2 separate regions of the Homo sapiens genome follow, and region 1 is linked to region 2. The links come from fine-mapping of genetic effects on gene expression. A gene starts in region 2. The other region holds a variant in brackets. All regions are shown on one strand. Distances are from middle to middle.

Region 1 (2,919 bases), 43 kb after region 2:
TATTTCATACCATAACCCAAATAAATTATAACTGGATTAATGTTAATTTTATTTTAAAAAATCAAACCATAGCCAGGTGTGGTGGCTCATGCTTGTAATCCTAGCGCTTTAGGAGGCCAAGGCAAGAGGATTGCTTGAGGCCAGGAGTTCTAAGACCAGCCTGACAACACAGTGAGACACCATCTCTACAAAAATTTTTATTAAAAAAAGTAGGCGAGTGTGTTGGTGCACACCTGTAGTCCTAAGCTACTCAGGAGGCTGAGGCAAGAGGATCGCTTGAGTCCAGGAGTTGGAGGTTATAGTGAGCTATAATAGCACCACTCCACTCCAGCCTGGGCAACAGAGTGAGACTGTCTCTGTAAAAACATCATCATCATCAAACTTCTTAAGGGATAATTTAAAAATATAAAAACATAGATTAATACTTGCCTGTTTTATGAATAAAGAAATTTCAAAGCTTAAAACCAATGGAAAAGGTGCTAAAAAAAAGTCTATTTTTTTAACAAAAAAATGTAAAATTGCTGCAAATAAAAAATAATAAAATTAAATAACAGTAGGCTGGGGAAATGTAACAGGACTAAAAGTTAATATTTTTAGTATGTAAAATGTACATTTAAAATCCATTAAAAATACAACTCCAAGCTGGGCATGGTGGCTCACGCCCATAATCCCAGCACTTTGGAAGGCTGAGGCAGGTAGATCATTTGAAGTCAGAAGTTTGAGACCAGCCTGGCCAACACGGTGAAACCCCATCTCCACTAAAAATACAAAAATTAGCTGGACATGTTGGCAGGTGCCTGTAATCCCAGCTACTTGGGAGGCTGAAGCAGGACAATTGCTTGAAGCCAGGAGGTGAATGTTGCAGTGAGCTGAGATCATGCTACTGCACTCCAGCCTGGGTGACAGAGCGAGACTCTATCTAAAAAAAAAAAAACAAAAAACAAAACTACTCCGATAGGCAAAGTACACGACAATTTCATTTACAAATGGCTAATCATGTGGAAAATTCAACCTCACCAGCGATTAAAAAAAAATTAACCAGATTTTTTAAAATTGAGGCACGATTAACATAAAACTGATCATTTAAAAATGAACAATTAAGTAGCATTTCGCACCTTCACAATGTTGTACAGCCATGACCTCTAACTCCAAAACATTTTCATTACCTGAAAAGAAAGTCTTTTAGCCATTAAGCAGCTTCCTTCCCTCCAGTCTCTGGCAACCACCTATCTGTGTTCTGTCTCTTTCTAGA[T/A]ATTTCATATCAACGGAATCATACAATATGTAACTTTTTGTGTCGGGCTTCTTTCACTTAGTATATTTTTGAGGTTCATCCACATGGTGGATGTGTCAGTGCTTCCTTTTTTATGGTTGAATAATATTCCATTCTGTGATACACCACAGTTTGTTTCTCCATTCATCCATTGATGGGCATTTGGGCTGTTTCCCTCTTTTGGCTGTTGTCAACAGTACTGCTGTGACCATGCACATATATACATTTGTTTGAATTCTTTTGGGCATGTTCCTAGGAATAGAATTGCTGGGTCTTATGGTAATTCCAGGTTTAATTTTTTGAGGAGCTGCCAAGCTCTTTTCTTCAGTGGCTGCACCATTTACACTCCCACCAGCAATGTGTAAGAGTTCAAATTTCTCCATATCCCTGCCAAAACTTATTTTTCATTTTTTAAGTTCTCGTCATCCTAGTGGAAGTGAAGTGGTTCTTCACGTTGGTTTTGATTTGTGTTTTCCTAATGACATGATGTTTCGCATCTGTTTGTGTGCTTGCTAGCCATTCGTACATCTTCTTAGGAGAACCAGATGTTATTTTTCACCTATCAAATGAGCAGACATGATTTTAAAATGCTAATAATGTTACGTAATATTATAGAAGCTATTTTAGGTGAAAAATGTGAAGTATAAAGCTGTGTGTGTGCTGCCAATAGTATGAAAACATATGTGTTAAAAATGGGACTCTTGTTAGCTCAGTTTTGGTTGAGGCATGAAAATCATAGCTGTAATATTCCAAAGTGAGTTGTTAGACTGACCACGATAAAGATATTTCAAAATAGAGATCTGAGAACCAATGAGATGGCTCAGCCAGATTGAGTCATGTTGTTAGAGATTAAAGGAGATTTTTGGAGAAAGCTACTGCTCAAAGCCTGGTGAGAGAGACTTGATATGAATTCAGCACATTCTCAGACATCAATACAATAAAATTGGAAATATATTGGGATTGAGGAGAAGTGAACTAATGTTAGTTTTCTGCCGAAAATCAAAAGGATAAAAAGACTGTGACCAGCTGTAGAACAAAGGACACTTGCTTTTAGATTAGTAGCTGTATTTATGGCAGAGTTTGCTTTGGCAGTGTTGGAGAGAGAGCTATAGGGATCATCTTAGATGGTGTCCGGTAGGACTATCTAGAAGAATGGACAGGCCTCAGCAGAGAAGCTGGAGACAGAACACAGGATCTTAAGGAGCTGAGAAGACAGATTGAGTCACCAGAATAGAATGCACTTGCCCAGTTTGTGGGAACTGCTGACCAGAGACCACCAGGGATGAGAAGGGAGGTCCTCAAAGTTGCTATTGCCAGCCACACACCCTCAGAGAACTCAGCCCAGAGAGTGCCCTTCAGGCAAGAGAGAACTTTCCTGTTCTCTGTACTCCTCCCCTCCCACCCATCATTCCCAACAGCACTGGACAAGTGTTTCAATTTCTCCACCACCTCCCCAACACTTGCTATTGTCTGTCTTTTTCATTCTTGCCGTCCTAGTGGATGTAAAGGGATACCTCACTGTGATTTTTATTAACGTTTTTCTGATGACTAATGGTGTTGAACATCTTTTCACATGCTCATCAGCCATTTATACGTCTTTGCAAAGATGTCTATTCAAATCTCTTGCGCATTTTAAATCAGGTTGTCTT
Region 2 (2,919 bases):
TAGCCCATTATGTTGTTACCGAGCAAAAGAGGTCACTGACCCGTGCGCTAGAAGCCAATAAATACTAAGACACTGGGTTTCAGAGAAAAGAAAAGCTTTTCATTGCAAATTGACCAACACGGAGACAGGAGTCCAGCTCAAATCTGTCTCGCTGTGCTGCCTTTAAGGAAATAATTTTATTAGAAAAGGGTTAGAGGGTGGGTTCCGGGATTAGCAGGAGATCGGTGGAAGGAAAGAGGAGGTCTGGCAAGTCCTCAGACATGCGCAGTTATCTCTTCATGCTTCCTCATGGGTGCTGTGTGCAAATCAAATTCCGGGGCAGTTAATACGAAACATGCGTGGAAATTCAGGCTGTGATATCAGCAAGCTCTTTCTGCAGAAACTCCAGTTGGCCATATTGGGTCCAACTGATTTCTGCCAGTTTTGTTATCACTTGTCACAGTTTCAGTATCTACCCCAGGAGGTCACGATTGCCCATTGTGTCTGTCCCAGGAGAGGTTGCGAGAGGTTCCCACCCACCCCCTTCCACTCACAGACCCTGAAGCAGAGCTTGTCTGGTTTCAGGCAAAACAGAGTCAGCATCCTGAAGCGGGGAGGGTCAAGTCTCCTGGGATGCGTTCAGAAGAAATTTCACAAGCATTTGGCTGAACTTGTGTACTGACATCTAAATGTTGAGTAACGTAGAGTAAAGAATTAAAAGGCAATCAAATAACCCTTTGGCTCATCTTTAAGTTTCTTCATGTTTTCTGAAAGCTTGTTCTTTTTCTTAAGTTTATTTCAAAAATGCTAAAAATTAGCCGGGCGCGGTGGCTCACGCCTGTAATCCCAGCACTTTGGGAGGCCGAGTCGGGCCGATCACGAGGTCCGGAGATGGAGACCATCCTGGCTAACACGGTGAAACCCCATCTCTATTAAAAATACAAAAAATTAGCCGGGCGTGGTGGTGGGCGCCTGTAGTCCCAGCTACTCCGGAGGCTGAGACAGGAGAATGGCGTGAACCCGGGAGGCGGAGCTTGCAGTGAGCGGAGATCGCAGAGATTGCAGAGATTGCACCACTGCACTCCATCCTGGGGGACAGAGCGAGACTCCATCTCAAAAATAAATAAATAAATAAATAAATAAATAAATAAATAAATAAATAAATAAATATAAAAAGCTAAAAATTAGGCCTTGCCTAGAGAAGAGAGTCACCCTGGATTCTAGCCTCACCTAATATGAGGCTTTCCCTATTTTCTCAGCTGAGGGGTAAGGACCCTTAGGACCTTGGAACTCCTGGATTCCACCTGCTGGTTGGAGCTTACAGGCAGGGGCCCCTGTGGGGCTGTGACGCCCTGTGTGATGTCATCAGGCTTTGTGAGGGGGACTGTACTGCCCTTTGAGTACTACTGTGTGGCCCCGCAACCCAGCACAACCAGGTATCTGCTTGGAACCCAGCCACCATAAAGCCTGCTAGCTAAAAAAAATTTTACATCTCTCAGTTCATTCGGCACAGACCCCTGCCTCATTCAGCTGTGACTCTGCTTGGAAAATTCATCAGTTACAAAGCAGCCAATGCAATTATCTCAAGGGTAGGTGAAGTGAGCCCCATGTGCTAGAAGTGGGAACAAAGATGGGGGGAAACGTCTTTCACTTTGAATCAGCGGAAGCAGTACATCAAATCACTGCGTCTTGAAGGAGGTGCTAGCTCTGGGGATTAGGTTTAAGAAGATTTATTTTATTTTTTAAAGAAGGAGTAGCCTCCTAGCTGGTTACACCACCCTAAACGTGGACTGGGCATTGTAATGGCTTTAGTTCATGAAAAATAGGGAAACTTTTCATTACATGTGTCTTTATGCTGGTAATGTTTATACAGTGACTGTATTACTTATTTGAAAAAAATAGGGAAATAAAGGCCCTTAGCAGTGTCATAAAGTCCTAGATCTTATATGGAGATCAGTATTAAGATGGTCCTAGGAAAGCTAGGGGTTAAAAATGCTGATTATAAACTGGGCACGGCAGCTGGCATCTGTAATTCCAGCTCCTGGGAGGCTAAGGTGGCAGGACCATGTGAGTCCAGGAGTTCAAGATCAGCTTGGATGAAAGAGTGAGACTCTGTCTCGAGAAAAAAAAAAAAAAAAAGGAAAAAAAGTGTTGATTATTGACAGAAGAATTAGTTGTGATATTATCTAAAGCATGGTCATGTTTTCCTGATTCAATAGACTCGTATTTTTTTAAAAACTTGGCCAGGCATGGTAGCTCATGCCTGTAATCCCAGCACTTTTGGGGGCCAAGGCAGAAGGATCACTTGAGCTCAGGAGTTTGAGACCAGCCTGGGCAACATAGCAAGACCTCATCTCTATTTAAAAAAAAAAAAAAAAAACAGGCGTGGTGGCACTCACCAGCCTGTAGTACCAGCTACTTGGGAGGCTGAAAGAGGAGGATCATTTGAGCCTGGGAAGTCAAGGCTGCAGTGAGCTGTAATTGGGCCACTGCACCCCAACCTGGGCAGCAGAGCGAGACCCTGTCTCAAAAAAAAAAAAGAAAAGAAAAAAAAAAAGAAAGAAACTCAATGACTGTAAATGCAGATTTAGGCTAGGGTTTTGGCGTGTTGGTGGGGGCATGTTGGTGACTATTAGCTGCATTCTTTTCTCTACAGGATTCTTTTGATCATCTGCTAAGTCTCTTTAATGCACTTAAAATTTTATTTGCTGTACATATGAATCCTCGTTGAAATATATTTTACAAATTCTGTGCTTTTCTAGCATTGAATTCTGCATCTTTTAGTGAAGAAAATAACTGAACATGGTTTTCTTCTGAAGACACAAAGTCCAAAGGCCAATCACACACCTCTTACATCGATCTCTTGATAGGAGGGGTTTTCTGTGTTTTGTGGGAGTATAGGGGGTGGGTTGGGAGGTGAGGTGCTTGTCACAGAGAAAA

Which allele goes with the higher level. Positions count from the first base shown, and alleles are read on the strand shown. Sizes are in standard deviations (SD) of each study's normalised expression.
With allele A in place of T in region 1, the expression in prefrontal cortex of the gene that starts at base 1,405 in region 2 is higher (small effect, 0.31 SD a copy in CommonMind).

What was found. PIP is the estimated chance that this variant, and not a neighbour inherited with it, causes the effect.
Region 1: its variant is fine-mapped to the expression of GALNTL5 in prefrontal cortex (GTEx, PIP 0.90).

Annotation. Positions count from the first base shown.
Region 1 is chr7:151,997,850-152,000,768 of GRCh38, forward strand. The region is part of intron 5 of GALNTL5 (polypeptide N-acetylgalactosaminyltransferase like 5); the gene reads left to right. Among named protein-coding and RNA genes, the nearest start is that of GALNT11, 26 kb to the right of the region's middle. The variant T/A (reference allele first, on the strand shown) is at 1,253.
Region 2 is chr7:151,955,042-151,957,960 of GRCh38, forward strand. GALNTL5 (polypeptide N-acetylgalactosaminyltransferase like 5) reads left to right here and starts at 1,405. Exons shown (of 9, transcript NM_145292.4): 1 at 1,405-1,568. It overlaps LOC105375571 (a long non-coding RNA gene), which reads right to left and starts at 1,304. Exons shown (of 2, transcript XR_928179.2): 1 at 1,210-1,304; 2 at 158-664.